Linked DNA regions of Homo sapiens: region 1 is linked to region 2. Evidence: fine-mapped expression QTL. Tissue or cell type: whole blood. Region 2 holds a variant in brackets; the other region holds the start of a gene. All regions are shown on one strand. Distances are between the middles of the regions.

The links. PIP is the estimated chance that this variant, and not a neighbour inherited with it, causes the effect.
Region 1: it holds the start of PDE6B, and the variant in region 2 is fine-mapped to the expression of PDE6B in whole blood (INTERVAL, PIP above 0.99).

Annotation. Positions count from the first base shown.
Region 1 is chr4:620,127-629,257 of GRCh38, reverse strand. PDE6B (phosphodiesterase 6B) reads right to left here and starts at 3,685. Exons shown (of 22, transcript NM_000283.4): 1 at 3,164-3,685. The coding sequence starts at 3,631. RefSeq lists enhancers at 2,031-3,019, 3,020-4,009, 4,999-5,989.
Region 2 is chr4:659,320-667,319 of GRCh38, reverse strand. PDE6B (phosphodiesterase 6B) reads right to left here. Exons shown (of 22, transcript NM_000283.4): 12 at 6,707-6,853; 13 at 5,079-5,186; 14 at 4,702-4,811; 15 at 4,133-4,220; 16 at 3,450-3,550; 17 at 3,099-3,206; 18 at 2,376-2,439; 19 at 1,991-2,065; 20 at 706-789. Among named protein-coding and RNA genes, the nearest start is that of PDE6B-AS1, 8.1 kb to the right of the region's middle. RefSeq lists a silencer at 3,291-3,760 and an enhancer at 3,355-3,947. The variant TA/A (reference allele first, on the strand shown) is at 4,485.

The sequences.
Region 1 (9,131 bases), 39 kb after region 2:
GCGTCCCTGCCCGGGGTGCACAGCGGGGGATGGGGAAGGCCATGCCACCTCACAGGCCCACTCGCTCCTCCCTCTCTGCACCCGACCTGTGCTTCCTTCCTGCCAAGAGGCTTGTCTAGGAGCCATGAACACTGGGTAGCTGGGCAGGGCCTCTCACCCGGCTGGCCCATTGGCTTCTGACATGTTGGGAGGGATGGAGGGGGGCCTGGTGTCCGCCTTCTGGGACCTGTGGTTCCTGAGCCCAAGGTTTTAGGGTTCACAATCCATGCCCAGGCCTGGGCCAGGCTCCAGGAAGGTTGTGCTCAGTCCTGAGTCCCGGCAGGGCCCCCCTTGTGCAGGCCCTGGGATTCGCTGTGTCTCCCCAAGGGGCTGCCGTGACACACAACATGTGTAGTCGTGGGGTTCTGGGAGCAGACAGGGACTTGGAGCCATCAGCTGAAGCCCTGCACCTCCCAGAAGCTGGTCCCACGTGGCCTGGCACCGCCTGGGCTCCCTGTAGGCCCGAGAGTGTGAGCCCTGGGCAGCCCCTCCCTCCATGGTGGCTCCTGGGACAGACCCCTGGGGACAGGAGGGCCCACAGGCCAGGCTACTGCAGCCTTCACCCTGGGCTGGCACCCTCAGCTCCAGGAGGATGGACGCTTGCAGCTCAGGGAGGAGCGGGTTACCCGGGGCCTGCCTGCCCTGCAGACTCAGGGCCCGCTGTGCTCAGGAGCAGGCTGGTTTAGCCGCTGCAGCACCCTTGAGAGGCAGACATTAGTTCCCCAATGTAAACAGGGAGACAAGGCTCAGGAGGGCGAGACTCCGGGTGGCCCGGGCAGGAGGGTGAGACTCCGGGTGGCCCGGGTGTTGCGTGCTGGCCACCCACGCCCCGTCTGAGGGACTCTTCCACCACAGCCACGAGCTGCTCTCCTGAACTGGCCGGTGCGGCTCACGCCCTCCAAAGAGGGTGCAGTGGGCCAGACTGAGGTGTGCTCTGCCTCAGTCCCCCCTTCTGTAAACTGAGACATGAACCCAGAAGCCACTTGGCAGTGCTTAGGGTGCTGAGATGCACTTCATGAGGCTTTGCACTTCATGAGGATTTGCACTTCATGAAGATTTGCTTTTTTTGGTGGCAATTCAGACTCAAGTTTCTGTTCCCTTAGTCTGAGATAACTAAGACTCCACAGAATGGAGGGACAGACACCATGCCCAGCCCCTTGGAATGGCACCAGCTACACTGGGCAGGGGAGAGGCCTCGGAGGTCAGTCCTGGGGCAGGTGCGGCCATGGCACTGGGGGTGGGGGTGGCAGGACCTAGAACAGCCCTGGGGAACAGGCCAGGCCGAGGGACGGACCTAGGACAGCCCAGCAGTTTGAGGGGGACCCGCAGAGCAGGGAAGAGACACCATCAGCCGGGTGGGGACAAAGGGGTGAAGGGGTGGTGGCAGCGGGGGACAAACTCCTGGGGGCAAGAAAGACACAGCCCAGATTTGGGACAGGGTGGGGATGAGAAGTTGTCTTGGGGATTGTGTGCAGGAGGAAGGAAGGGAGACGGGGAGGATGGCAGAAAAGGAGGGAGGAGGGTGGCAGGAGAGTGAGGGGAGGAGGGAGGAGGGAACGGGGGGAGGGAGGAGCAGCTGGTGTCCACCCCAGGCCCCACTGCTGTGAAGTTTCCTGGCTTCCTGGTAACTCATGCTCCTGATGCACGATTGATTTGTGGGTGCCCCACTTCTTAGGAGGGAGGTGGAGATGAAGGTAACCCGGGGATTACTGAATCTAGGTCACTGCCTTGCTGCTTGCTTACTGCCATTGGGATAAGAGGATTGCCACTTCCGGCCTGGTGCGGTGGCTCACGCCTGTTATCCCAGCACTTTGGAAATCTGAGGCAGGTTGATCACCTGAGGTCAGGAGTTCGAGAACAGCCTGACCAACATGACGAAACTCTGTCTCTATTAAAAATACAAAAATTAGCCGGGTGTGGTGGCGGGCACCTCTAGTCCTAGCTACTCAGGAGGCCAAGGCAGGAGAATCGCTTGAACGTGGGAGACGGAGGTTGCAGTGAGCTGACATCATGCCACTGTACTCCAGCCTGGTGACAGAGCAAGACTCTGTCTCAAAAAAAAAAAAAACCCACAAACGAAAACAAACCAGGATTGCCACTCCCCAGCTGCCTGGGAAGGAGGGACCACACCTGCCCCTGGGCTGGCAGCCTGGTGGGTAATTCCCAAGGCTCATCCAGCAAGAGCGGAGGCTGCCTGGGCCTCTTGCAGCCTCCTTAGCTGTGGGGACAGAAAAGGGGAGAGGAAGCTGGGACGGGTGCAGGACAGGGAGAAGGGGCTTCCCCCCTCCCCTTCTTCCTCAGAGCCCCCTTGCCGGGCAGCTCCTCAGGGCCTTTCCAGGTCTCTGCTGGCCGCTGCCCTCACCCAGTCTGGCAGGCACCTCACACCCCTCTTGTTCTCCAGTCCCGCCAGGACCGCCTCTGTCCTCGGGAAGCGTCTGCCCTAGCCCAGGCTTTGCATGAACAGGCCCTGCCCTTCCCTCCTTCAGTGACTCCAGTGAGCCTGTCTCGATTCTGTCTCTTGTCCCTCCCCAGTCCCACCCTGGACCCCTGTGCTCAGTGGCTACCAGGTTTGTTCTCCCCTGGCGGCTGGCGTGGGCTCCCATGGGATAAAGCTGCTTCTGCCACAGTGGAAGTTTGGGGTTCCCCTGGCTCTCCCTCCCTGTGGGCGTCTGCACCACCTTCGACTGTGACCTCTTCTTCCCAAATCCCAAGGCAGGGCCTCCCTCCCAGCCCAGAGAGCCCTGAAGCCCCCATCTGGTCAGTCTTCCTGGAAGCCAGGGGTCCTCACAGGGACTACATGGTCCCCACCATGGGATGTGGATGCAGAATCAGGGGCACCCCGGTTTGAGCCTGAGTCTGCTTCAGCCGAGGCTCCTAGACTCAGGTCTAACCAACTCAGTGGCCATGCGATGTCAGCTTGAGCCAGAAGCCGAGTCGGAGAGGCAGGCGGCCAGGGCACAGTGCCGGGAGGGGGCTCTAGGTACTTGCTCCTCAGCACAGAACTAGCCTGTGCCCTGACAAGAGGCCTCCCTGGAGGCCTGAGGATCCGAGCTGACCCTTAGACACCTGGGACAGGTGCAAGAGATGCACACAGCCGCCTCCCTGAGGCTCCGCACAGACCCACCTCGGCCACGTCCTCGACGTTCACCATCTTTTTGGTCTGAGCCACGTGGCCCACGACCCCGATGTCCAGTGGGAAGACGATCTCGGAGTCGGGGGGCACCAGGCAGTCCTCCAGGACGCTGTCCGGCTGCACGCTGAAAAGCCTGGTGGCCAGCTCGGCCACGCCGTTGCGCTGGCGGTACATGAAGAGGCTGCAGCGGTCGGCCTGCAGGAGGGTGCAGAGGCGCCGCAGGACCTTGAAGACCACGCGCTCCATGTTGATGCTCTCCTGCATATCCTGCACCAGCTCCAGCAGCGCCGTGCTCTCCTCCACCTGGCAGAGGTCCCGGAGGCTGTCGCAGTCCGGCGGGCACCCGTCCTCGCAGGCCGCGGCCACATTCTCAGGGCTCAGTTTCTTCCCAAAGTACTGGCGGGCAAAATCGGGGTTCTGGTCCAGAAAGCTCCGGGCCTGCTCCTCACTGAGGCTCATGGTGGCTGCCTGTCCCTGGAGACGCTGCTGCTCCAGGCACGCATGGACTCCCAGGAAACCCTGTCATCAGCAAAGTCTTTCTTAGTGAGATTAGGAACCCCGGGGGCGGGTCAGCTGACTCACTCCTACAAATGGGGGCCTGCGCTCCCTCTCCTCAGACCCTGGGACTTCCCACCTTCCAGGAAAACCAGACCCTGTGGAATGAAGGCTGGGAGTAACTGTTGGGGGATCTCCTGCCTGTTGCAGGCGTCACGGGTGGCTGGGCACAGGCATTTGGCTTCTAGCGGACCAGGCCCTGAGAACTAATCCCCTGAGGAGGTTATCCCACACACAGCATGACGCTTTCTGCTGGTGGAGCTGCCTGAGGGTTTGGGTTGGTCCCACAGGTGGCCCCAGGCCCTCCTGGGAGCCCAGACCTGGGCTCGGGTGTGCTGGGGAGGTGGTGGGGCACTGGCCCTGCCTCCAGGAGATGCAGTTCACCCCTGTGCAGGGAGAGGGGGCTGGGTAATCACACCAGGACCCAAATGCCCAGAGGCCAGCAAGGGGACCCTGGATGTGGAGGTGGGACCACATCCACCTTCCCCCACACTCTGAGGGATGCAGAGTTGCTAGTCAGCCTTTACCTGCTGTCAGGCCCCGGCTGGGACAAGCTTCGGGGTGACGCCGCTCTGAGGCCACATGGCTTTCAGTGGAAAAAGGACCTGAATGTTGGGGGGCTGCCTGGCAACAAAGCCCGACCTCTCCTCTCCGCTGTCACCTCAGCAAGCCTTGCCTGCTCCCATAGGCCTCTCGGCTCCTGGGCCAGCTCCCTGCAGGCCAGCAGGGGTGATGTGGCCAGAAGCACCTTGGCTGGGTCTGGCATGGGCGCCGGCCTGGCGGGCGGGTGGCAGTGTTCCTGATTTCCCTGAATATAAAAACGCTGATTGTCGCTTTCCAGGCACCTTTGTGCTGCCAGATCCTGGGCTTAAGGTTTCTTCCCATCTTTTCCAGTTTATCTGTCCATGTTGTCACCATACTTTTAACCAGGATGCAAGGTTTTCATGTGGTTCTTTTACTGCACTCAGCTGGTAGACGTGTGTGCACGCGTGCATGAGTGTGCACATACGTGTGTGCACGGAGTGTGAGTGTGCGCACGTGTAGGTGTGTGTGTTCGTGTGAGCACGTGTGCATGACAGCCAGGTGCCCTCAGGAGCGCAGAGTTCTCTCAGCACGAGGCCAGGCCCCGGGGAAGCTTCTGCGAGGGCCCTGGGCTGCACCGCTGCAGCTGCCTGTCTCGGAGGCTGCTCTGAGGCAGCATCTGCGCCGTCCACAGTGGGCCCAGCTGGGTGTGCGACGTGTGCCCTTGTGCCATGATGTTCCTGCCTCCACTTAGTCACAAAGTCACTTCCTTTCAAGGATCTGCTGAGAGGCTTCCCCTTTTTCCTAAAAATAGTGAATTCTCACTGGGGACGGGGGAGTGGGGATGTGGGTGGGGGGAGGGGTTGTGGGGCCGCTGCAGTGCTTGGGTTTGGGGCCGGGGGGAGGGTCGCCTGCTTTGCATTCAGTCCCAGAACAGCCTCCAGAGCCTGCCGGTTGCATTTCCCAACTCCCAGGGATGAGCTCACATTGCGCCTGGATGTGAGGATGGCGGCCGGAAACCAGCCTTCAGGTCCTCGGTTGCCCCACCCTGAGGTCTATGCACACGCAGCCCCTCCCCACCTCCTTTTTCCTCTCCGGGCTCTTTCCCGTCCCCCAGTTCCTCACAACCCCCTTCTGGACACCCCCACTTTGCCCCTTGCTCCCCTCCGTCAGCGAGGGGCCTGCCAACCTCCCTCCCACAGGGGCCTCCGTGCCCGCAGAACTGAGACACTCACCTGCGTGTGAAATGAGCTAAGCGCATCTTGAGTGGGACCGCAGAGCTGGAGAGGCCTTGCTGGGGGCATGAGGGCCCTGGGGTGGGGCTGGGGGTGGCAGCTGACCTCAGGCTCTGCCTTGCCACCTGCCCAAGGGAGCGTGGAGTGGCTGGGCTCAGTGTGGAGAGCAGGTGGGACAGGGAAGGGGTGCTGGGCTGAGGATTTGTGGTGCTAGCGGGAGTGAGGGTTGGCTGGGAGGGCTCAGTGTGGAGAGTGGGTGGGACGGGGAAGGGGTGCTGGACTGAAGATTTGGGGCGCTAGCGGGAGTGAGGGTTGGCTGGGAGGAGCCCACAGTCTGCGGCCATAGTCCACTCACCCTAACACGACTGTGACAGCAGCTTCCACCCGCAGCACCGCGTTCCTCACCTGTGGCTTTGTCCTGCCCCAGGAGCCCGTCGTGATTGTAGGTGAGTAGGTTCAGGGCGGCAAGGAGTCCACAGCCTCTGGGGAACCCTGAGCCATGACCATGGGAGTTGTGTGTGAACACCGCAGCTCCCTTACCTGCAGGGGCCCAGAGGTAACTGCTCCATGGCACACTATTGGTTCTATCTTTTCCCCATCTCACTTCCCTACATACCTACTGATGATGCTGGGGGACCCTGATTGGGTTGGACTTGACACAGTCAAAAAGACACACCTGTGAGGCACACCTGTGAGACACACCTGTGAGACACAGCTGTGAGACGCACCTGTAAGGCTTACCTGTGAGATGCACCTGTGACATGCACCTGTGAGATGCACCTGTGAGACACACCTGTGAGACACACCTGTGAGACGCACCTGTGAGACGCACCTGTGAGGCTCACCTGTGACATGCACCTGAGACACACCTGTGAGACGCACCTGTGAGACACACGTGAGACGCACCTGTGAGACACACATGTGAGACGCACCTGTGACATGCACCTGTGAGACACACCTGTGACATGCACCTGAGACGCACCTGTGAGAAACACGTGAGATGCACCTGTGAGACACACATGTGAGACGCACCTGTGACATGCACCTGTGAGACACACCTGTGACATGCACCTGTGAGATGCACCTGTGAGACACACGTGAGACGCACCTGAGACGCACCTGTGAGACACACGTGAGACACACGTGAGACGCACCTATGAGGCACACCTGTGAGACATAGCTGTGAGACGCACCTGTGAGATGCACCTGTGAGATGCACATGTGAGATGCACCTGTGAGGTGCACCTGTGAGACGCACCTGTGAGAAGCACCTGTGAGATGCAAGGACTCACTGGGCGGCTTCTCCACAGATGCACCTGGCGAGTGTCTGAGGAGATATGGGAGTGCTCTGTCCCTTGGCTCCTACTAACTTTGCCTCATCATAATGTAGAATTTAAAATTAGCAAGCACTTCCTGGCAGTCACTTAGAACAAGGTGTTTGTCATCAAATAGCTTTTACATGAAGAGAATCCTAGTTTCTTGTACTAAACTGTGGAAAAGATGCAATTGTACAAGGAACAATTGGCCCTGATGTTGAAATGGACCGGTCATGAGGAATGGCAAGAGGTGAAAGTGGAGAGAAGATTCGAGCTCAGAATCAGAAATCTCATGAAATTTGCAAGCAGAGAAACAGTCAGCTCCGTGGGGAGCTGGTGCTCTTCCAGACCATTTCCCTGGAATGAGGACAAGGAAGGGTGAGGAGGTGGGGCTCCTCCTGAGCTGGTGTGGGAATTCCACCCAGGACAGGACAGGGGTCTTTGTGGGTGGGGGCGGCCGCGGCCCTCGGCCTGGGCTCTGTCCTCTGCCCATGCTCAGCTGCTGTCTGACCACAGGCGAGGCTCTCGGCTTCTTCAGGTCCCATTTTCTGGTTTGTTCTCGCCAAGAAGAATCTTGTGGCATTGTTTTTCCAGTGGGAAGTGATGCTGTTGAGTGTGTGGCAGGTGCTAGTGCCCCCGATGAAGACGGGTGCAGACGACACGCCACAGAGGACCACGGTCCCCCCTGGCAAAGGTTGGGGGAGGGTCCACAGGAGCTGGGCAGGGGGGTGTCTGGAAGGGGGTCCTCACCGTGTGGTACCTGTGGCTCCTGTCGGGTAGTCTCAGGCTCCCTCCAGATGTGAGGGCGGCACCCAGTCCTGCTCAGATCAGAATACAGATGGGCTTTTGTCCTCGAGCCGAGGACGTTTCTGTGTGTAATGAGGAGATGCGGAGCAGGAGGCAGAGCCTGTGTTCCTCTGTTGGTTGGGGATGGTTGGTGCCTAGCAGGATGATCCCACTCCCACCAGTGGCACGACCACCACCTGCTCCATGGTGCTTATTTTTGCTTTTTCATAAAGAGGCCTCAGGGCTCCTCTGTCTCCACTCAACAGGAGCTCTTCATCCATTCACCTCCTTGTAGCCCTGGAAGTGCCATGTTGAAACTCCGGACACCCGCCCCTCATCCATAAAAGACTTGGTCCCTGTTCTCACAAGGCCTATAATCTAACGAGGGCAACAGAAGTTTATTTTAAAAATCCCACAAATGCATGGAAAACACTCACTGTGCCCAGGGCCAAGGCTGATGGAGATGCCAGGTGTCCGTGGTTTGGGAAGCCACATGGAGGGGACGATGGCACAGAGAGCAGGGGGAACCGGTGTGATGCGAAGCAGCCCTGGCCGGTGGGGGATCCAGTCCGTCTCACTTTAGGGTGGGACAGGTTGAGGTGCAGCTTGGAGGGGGCGCAGGCACCACCTCCTCGCAGCGGGCGCCCCTCACATGTGTGGGTGCCCTGCATGTGGGTCACACCAGCGTGGGGAGAGACTCCTGCTGCCGTTGAGTGGAGGGGCTTAAATCTCAGCTCCAGATGGATACTTCTCAGCGGGCAGAAACCATCGCTCATCCTTCAGGACGCGTCTGACACGGGGCATCAGAACGCGTTTTGCTTTGTGTGTCTGAGGGTCTTTGTGCGTCTGTGGGTCTTTGTGCATCTGTGGATCTCAGTTTCTCAATCTCTTGGTGCATCTTGGGTCTCGGTCTCAGTGCTGGACGCAGGGAGCATTCTGCCCTTGTTTATGGGGTTCTTGGTTGATGAGGAGACAGAAAGTGAGCTCATGTCTCCATCGCGATGTCTCTGGGCTACATTCTGCTGAGTCTTTCCCTCGTTCTGTCATTTCACCTCTTTTCTGCAAACGTTTTTTTCAATCATGTAAATGCTTCTTTTCTAGTGGCCGGGACTTTCTGAGGTCTCCATCACCAACCCAGGTTCCTCGGGGCTCTGCACTTGACCTGGTCAGACGGGCCTTGTCCTGGTGCAGCTTTCAGGGGGCTCCCAGGTGGCCACTTTTGCTCAGCTCTTGGGGTTTTGTGCAGTGCGTGCGAAGCTTAGTCCTCAGCCAAAGCCCCATGTGGCCCTGTGCAGATCGTTGGAGCCTGTCGTGTGCACAGATTCCTCCTCGGCAGCAATCTTCCCTGCAAACTGCGGCCACCGCTGCCTCCCCAGGGCCAATCTGTCTTCCAAGCTTCGTAAGATCTCAAAACAGTAATTCATTTTTGTCTCCCAGTTTTCCATAACAACACATAAATAATTGCTATCATAAATTAGTATAGCCTCATGTAAGGTAATCCCTAATGTGTCTACACAGTGCTCTGCAGATTTTCAAAATAATGAA
Region 2 (8,000 bases):
GGGGTGGGTAGGATGGGGCGGGGAGTGGGCACAGCCCACTCCGGGACAACTTCATGTGGAACCCGTGGCATCCTCCTTGGGGCGTGGATTCCATCACCAGGGAGTGTGGCCGGAGGCAGCTGGCTCTTATGGGCATCACACAGGGCCCCACGGTCAGACCCCTGCCCCATCGAGTCTCCCCCTCCATGTCCGCCTTGCGTCCTCAGAGACTCAGCTGGCATCGGACTGTGGCAGATTGGCAGGGATGTGGCTCCTTCTGCTGTTCCAAACGCCCCTGTGGGCGGGTGCACCAGCAGACAGGCCGACCCAGCCCCGCCTCGAGGGTTCACAAACATGGAACAAATGAACCCACAGAGCTGCAGCCAAGGCCCCCAAAACAGTGTGCTGGCCACGGCGGAGGGCACTGAGGGAGAACTTCTGGGGTAGGCCTGGAGGCTAGCAGAGGACATTCTGGGCTGGGAAAGGGCTCAGAGCTTCCAGGGGCACAGCAGGGTGAGGATGGGCTGGGGCACCTGTGGGGGTCCGGAAACTGATGTTCCTCCCCATTTGCCCCACTCAAGAGCGGCACGAAGCTGGCACTGGCATCCCTACTCCAGTGAGGACACCGCCGGGCCCGTGTGAGTCCACGCGACTCCAGCCCGCGCCCCCTTGCCTGCTCCCAGCCACCCTGCCCCAGTCAGCTCGGAACACCCGTGAACCACTCGCCTTGTACACGAATGTGCACACGAAGTCGATGAAGCCCACTTGCAGCTTGGGGAGCTCGGCCGCCTTGTTCCGGTCCATCATAGGCTGGTGGGAGGAACAGAGGGCGGGAGAACAGTGACCAGGGAGGCAGCTCCTGGGGCCCCGCCCAGCCCCCCGACCCCCTCACTCAGATGTGCTCATGGAGACACAGCCTGGGACGAGCCTGCCTGACAGAAACTGGCTCTCGGGAGGGGAAGCTGACACCCTCTCCCTTGGCCAGCGGCTCCACAGCTCCTAGGAACTGTGGGCAGCTTCTTCCCACAGCTGCTGTTGGCTCCAGCCCGTGGTCCCCTGAGGGCAGCCCCCTCTTGGCTCTGGGGACCCTTACTGCAGCTGGGGAGAGGCGGGGAGGGGGATGGGCTGTACACAGTGCTGAGCCGGGCTGGGCTGCACTGCCCAGACACTCGGCTGACCAGGACCTCGCTGTGCACTCGCCTGGGGCAGACACAGACGTGCTCTGGAGCTGTTTCTAGTGTCAGACCCCGAGTGCCCTGGGCTGTCCGTCCCCTCACAGCGTCCTGGTGGAGGGTGAACCATGCAGGACTCTAGAGGCCGGGCGCGGGGGATGGACCTGCTGCCTGTCCTTCCCCTGTGGGGCTTTGCTGACCAACCAATGCCCCCTTTCCTGCCGAGGCTGCACCTGGCCTAAGCCCTCTCCACTGCAGGCTCCAGAGAGCCCCTCGCCGCCCACCAGAGCGGGTGTGTGAGAAACCACAGCTCCCACCTGGTCCACGTGGGGCTGGGGCAGCCCTGCCTCTCCTGTTCCTGGCGCCTATCCTGACTCTCCCATTTGCTGGCACCTCTCCTGCTGCCAGGAGGTATCCAGACCCCGCTGCTGACCTGAGGACCCTGGCATTGTCCATCATACCACTGTGTGGGCCCGGGACGCCCCCCATGCGTTCTCTGCCCCAGCACCCTCCCCAGGGCTTTCTTGGTGCATGGCTCGCGGCCCTGCTGGGGTTCACCTGCAGAGCTGCCTGGACCCAGAGGCTCCTGGTGATGAGCGGGTGGCCCTGGTTCCTCCAGTGCCAACGACGTCACCTCTGCATAAGCATCACCCAAGCCACAGCTGTACCCAGGTCCGAGCCACCCACACGCATGTCACATGATCCCACAAAGTGAGATAAGGACCCCACGACCTCAGAACCCCCTGCCTGAGACCAAGCCAGGACCTGAGGCTCCTGAGGACCAAGAGGGGTCTCTAACACCCGTTTCAGGAGTGGAAGGTTCCAGAAGCAGCACTCACAATGGGCTGCTGATCCAAGACTGTCCTTTCCAAGTCACCTTGCTCCCAGAACTCAGCAGCCACGAGAAGTGCGACCTGGAGGCACAGGAAGGCAGCTGTCTGTGGAGCTCTGAGCCCACGCGGAAGGGCCCGGGCCCGCCCCGTGAGGCTCCGAGCCTCGGTCTTCTCCGCCCCAGACCCCCGGGGTCCCCACCACACAGGGCTCCGGTTGAGCCATGTAGACACACTGCAGTACCCCCATCCTTGCCGCCCTGGCCTGGCCCCGAGGTGGCCCTCAGAGCTCCTTGCAAACAATGGTCCGTTGCCATCCGAGGCTCCCGCCCGCCCGGCAGTCCCATGTGCTGAGAGGCACTGACTCTGGGTCTGGAGGGCCCTCTGTTCTAACCTTGCTCTGGACTTCCCAGGGCTTGGTGATGGCAGACAGGTCGCAGGCTGTCATCATCATGGCCCTGCAGACACAAACCGGGCACGAGTGCTGATGGGCGTCTCCTGAGGGCAGGTGGTTTATATGTGTTTTCTTTTTTGAGATGGAGTCTTGCTCTGTTGCCCAGGCTGGAGTGCAATGGCGCAATCTCAGCTCACTGCAACCTCCGCCTCCCGATTCTTGTGCCTCAGCCTCCCGAGTAGCTGGGATTACAGGCGCCCGCCACCACGCCCGGCTAATTTTTGTATTTTCGGTAGAGACGGGGTTTCACCATGTTGGCCAGGCTGATCTCGAACTCCTGACCTCAGGTGATCCACTCCCCTCGGCCTCCCAAGTGCTGGGTTTATGTGTATTTTCTCACTGGGTCCCTGGGACCAGCCTGGGGAGGGGCTGGTTGTGAATCACCATTTTACAGGTGAAAAAGTGGAAGGTCAAAATGAAGTAAGTTACTGCCAAGGGCTACAGACCAATGCAGGGCCTGTGTGCTCCCCAGCTCTGCACCATCTCCCTGAGAGCTGGGGGGAAATAAGGACGGCGCATTTGTTTCACAGCCCTCGACAAGCTGCCGCGACGGGCTCTTCCTGCTCCAGAGCGTCTGGGGAGGGCTGCAGGGTTAACCAGCTGGTGAGTGGGCCCGGTCCCTGCGAGGGAAGGACCCCTCGTGCCCCCTCCGCCCGCGCTCACATGACGATCTCCTTCCGGGTCGTCTCCAGGGACAGGTACTCCACCCAGCTCTTCTTGTCCTGGTAGTTCTTGGACTCATCCACGATCTTCTGAAACATCGCTCTCTTCCTGAACCCAGGGAACAAGGGAGGTGCAGGTGGGAGCAAGTGTGGAGACCCCGCCCCAAGCGCCCGTCTGCAGGGAGGCGCGGAGCCCGAGCGAGGCCCCATCCGGGGTGCGCGGGGCCGGCGGGCAGGGACGGAATCCGGGGCTGCGTCCCCCGGGCTGTGCCGCCGCTGCGCCCCCGTGTCTGCCGGGGGTCCCAGGCTACCCGCCCGCCCCGCGAGGCGCCCCCTCCCGGAAGGCGCGCACTTGAAGTACAGGGCCAGGTCCGTGGCGATGATGGCGATGTCCATCAGGTGGATCACGTGCTCGTGCTGCCGCCGGTTCAGGTTCTGGTAGATGTTCAGGGTCTGCGGAGGTTATGCCCAGCGCGTCAGGCGCCCTGCGGCCACCTCTCAGGGTGCCCGGGGACCCCGCCCCTTCCGCCTCGGCTGCCTGTGCCTCTCACGCCCCCGCCCTCGGGCCCTCGGTGGGCGGGACCCCTAATCCGCCTGCTGCTCAGGGCCCTCCTCAGGGTGCCCAGCTCTCCACCAGCGGCTCCATCGTCGGCTTGGGACGCAGATGGCCTCAGAGGTCACCACCGGGGAGCGCAGGGAGGGGTCCACTGAGTGTCCAGGTCCTTGGGGGCCGCTCAGGGCTCGGCTGCCCTTCATTCCCCCGCTGGTGGGTCCCGGGCCGCTTCCCCTTCGGCTTCCACCCCACCCCATGAGGGGCCCTTTCCAGTTGTCTTCCCCACAAGCGTTTTCCCAGGGCCTCCGATGCACCTGCCCTCAGCCTCGGCCCTCCGCCTTCTCTGCCGCCCTCCCCCAGTGCTCACACACCCAGTGCTCACCCGCTGCATCAGAACCCTGCTCCGCAGGATACGGCCCTGCCGTCCTGCGGACGCTGCGTCCCCAGCGCCCACAGCAGAAACCGAGGGTGAGTATACCAACCTCCTCCGAGAGCAGGAACTTCCCAAACTCCAGGTGGTGCCGCTCCAAAATCGAGGAGCCGTGGAGCTTAGCCAAGGGGTTCTGGGACCTGTTACACAGGTGGTGGAGGTGAGGCCCGTGGGACCTGCCCTTGGCCCACCCTGCGCTCTGCAGCCCCCCCAGATGGGCCCCACTTTCTTTTTTTTGAGACAGGGTCTGCCTCTGTCACCCACTCTGGAGTGCAGTGGTGCAATCATGGCTCAATACAGCCTTGACCTCCTGGGCTCAAGTGATCCTCCCACCTCAGCCTCCTAAGTAGCTGGGACCACAGGTGTGCGCCACCATACACAGCTTTTTTTTTTTTTTTTTTTTT[TA/A]AGTTTTTGTAGAGGAGAGCTCTTGCCATGTTGCCCAGGCTGGTCTCGAACTCCTGGGCTCAAGCAATCCCCTCGCCTTGGCCTCCCACAGTGCTGGAGTACGGGGCCTGGCCGTGGACTCCACTTTCTACATAGCCTGCTATGCGAAGCCTAATTCACGCCAAGGGCGTGGAGTTGATTTAGGGCTAATTCACATGCCCGCCCTGAGGTGCCTACTTCATCTGGTACAGGTTGTTGGTGCCGCGGTGGTCGATGTCATGGCACAGGCCGGCTGTCACCATGGCGAAGGCCTCCAGGTCCGTGTAGTAGCTCTTCAGTTTGCCGGTCTGTAGAGACAGGGCCACCTTGCTCACCGGTCCTGGCTCCAGCAGGGTGGGGAGTGGTGAGGGGTTGGGATGACCTAGGCGTCGGGTTGGAGGTTGGACCTCCGACCACCGCAGGGCTGGGGTGCGCGGTGCACGGTGTCAGAGGGCGTTGCCCTCCTCCATCCTTCTGCCCTGGGAGGACCCCCATCTCATCCCTCGGGGTGCTTGAGTGCTGCCCTTGGTACCAGGAGGGCCTGCACAACCCTGGTGATTCTGGCAGCCACGTACCATGAGCAGCGTGAACATCGTCTGGGCCACGTTGAAGCCGTGGCGCCAGTTGTGGTAGGTGATTCTCCGGTACCCTTTGCTGATGGAGAACAGGAACCGCACCAGGACCTGGGGGAGCCGAGAGGACACAGGGCTCCGGCGGCAAGCGTGTAAGTCCCGCCAGAGCGGCACCTGTGGCTGACTTCACAGTGGAAGCCCTGCTCCGTGCCATCATCCCCACACCGTCTCCTGGACTTCCCGATCTTCCCCATCCCTGCGTTTCCCACTGGCCTCTGCTGGCCTTCCTGGGTAGGGGCTGCCACATTGGCACCTATGGGGTGGAGCCAGGTAGGGCAGGAGCTGAGAACAGCCCCAGCCTTCAGGGGCCGCCCAGCCTCCATCCGACTGCCTGGCCTCAAGCTGGGAGGAGGACCCCTGGGGATGCAGCATATTTTAAGATGTTGGTTTTAGGCATGGACATTTGAATGAGCAGAATGTGTGGGCTGCAGGCTGGGGTGGGAGAACCGATGTCCGCAGGGCAAGAGAATGCTGGTCTCTCTTGCCCTGCGGACATCGCCAGGAGGCTCTTCCTGCGGCCATTGTGATTTTTAGGGTCAGAAAATTATTTGGAAATATTTTTTATTCTGCAAATATTTTCTATACATTTTTTCTTGAGTGTTTTCCCTTAGTATTTAGTAAAACTTCTTTTGAAAATGCTGGCCTGCTGCACCTGTTCTCAGAGGGGCATGAGAAAAGAGGATTCTCTTCCTAGGGCTGTGGGAAGCCCCTTGAGATGTTGGAAGCAGGGCAGGGCAGGAGAACCCAGGGAGGGCACAGAGCTGTGGACGAGGGCTGGGAAAGCCATCCCGCCTCCCCAGGGGGTCTCCGAGGAGTGCTGCTGTGGCCAAACCAGGGGGGCCACTTTGTGCTTTCTGTTTAGGTGATGGGATGCTTCTATCTCCTCAGCACCCCACACCAAATCCCCTGTTATTGCCAGATGATGTGCCTAATGATCAAATTGCTTGGAACTCCTAATAATAAAACTTTAAATCTATCCATTCACCATCCATCTGCTGTCCACCCATCCATTCACCCATTCATTGACCCATCTATTAATTCATTAATTGACCCACCTACTCATCTATCACTCATCCACCCACTTCTCCATCCATCCACCTATCCATTCACTTATCCAACCATCTAACTACCATTGGCCCACTCACCCATCCATCCATTTATCCAACCATCCAACTACCATTGGCCCACCCACCCATCCATTTATCCAACTATCCAACTACCATTGGCATCCACCCATCCATTCATTTATTCTTCCTTTGTTTCTTTCTGCTTGCCTGTTGGCCTTCCTTCCTTCCTAACCTCCCTCCTTCCTCCCTGCTTTTCACCCATCCAGCCATCCATCAATCCAGCCATCCACCCAGCCATCCAATTATTTGTTTTATGCTTACTTCCCGTGTGCATTTTACCTGTTCTGTGATGAACATGTCGGCCCTCTAAACTTCCTGTGGGATCTGGAACCCCCAATCCCATCCCCCTCACCTTCTGGGGCACCTGAGGCCCTGATCACATCCCCACCCCCATGTCCTGGGCGGCCTCAGGGACCTGACTATGCGCCCTGCGGTGTCTCCCACCTCCTGGGGGATCTGGAACTTTCGGACCACGCCCAGCTCGTAGTACATCTGGATGCCACATTTGACCAGGTCCAGTTCGGTGCACTCCAGGTCAGAGAAGTGGAATTCGTAGATGTCAAATGTGGTGGGCCCTGGCAGCTCCTCCTTCTGTGGGAGGGATTGTGGGCTGAGGGAGGTTGGCCTGCCACAGCCCCCACTTGCTTCTCATCCTTTCTTCTCTCCAGATCCCCTGCCAAGCCTCAGACACCTCAGGCATCTCTGAGGAGATGTGTCATTCCTGGCGCTCCAGCCTGTATCCCAGGCTGCTCACACGCCCCCCTGGCTCAGCCTCACTCTCCCCTCTTGTACCCTGTGGCCCAACAGTGAAGAACTTGCCCAGTTGGGTGGACAGGGTGATGTTGTTGAGACAAGAAAACACAAAGGTGTGCACATGAAAAGAAACACACACACACACGGATACAGACACACGTGACACAGGCACACCTGGATACACGGCCACTCCCATGAATACAAAGGCACCGGTGTGGACACACAGGCACACACATGAGCACCCAGGCACACCCACAGACATGCAGGCACACACGTGCAGACTCACGCATGTAGGCTCACACACACAGCCATGAGGTAACACACACAACAGTGGACTTTCAGACCCACCAGGCACATTCCCATGCTCAGTCCAAGGCCTACTCACAAGGCTCGTGGCCCCGGGAGATTCTGGCTAAATTGCATAGGCAGACACAGGGTGATGGGGACACCACATAATCCCCACATTGATCCAGCAATCGTCTCTAGGAGACACACACAAGCATGTGTCTATATATATCCATGTGCACACACATGCACACACAATACACACCCCCTGTGCACATGTGAGCACACACACATGGGTGCACACACGGGCACACACACACAAACGCCCATGTGCACACACATGCACACACATACTCGTGGGCACACATGTGCACACACATGTGTACACATGTGCACATTCATACAATGCACACACGCACACACATACCCACATGTGCACACACACACCCACATGTGCACACATGTACACACCTGTGCAGACGCCCACGTGTGCACACACACCTACATGCACACACACGTACACACTTGTGCACACACAGACACCCACATGTGCACACACATGCACACAGACACCCATGTGCGTGCACACATGCGGATGCACACACACTGGGAGTTGCAGGCACCTAGGCACTCTGAGAGCAGAGATGACATAGATGGACACAGAGTCCAAGTCAGGCCCACTAAACATCCGGTGAAAACT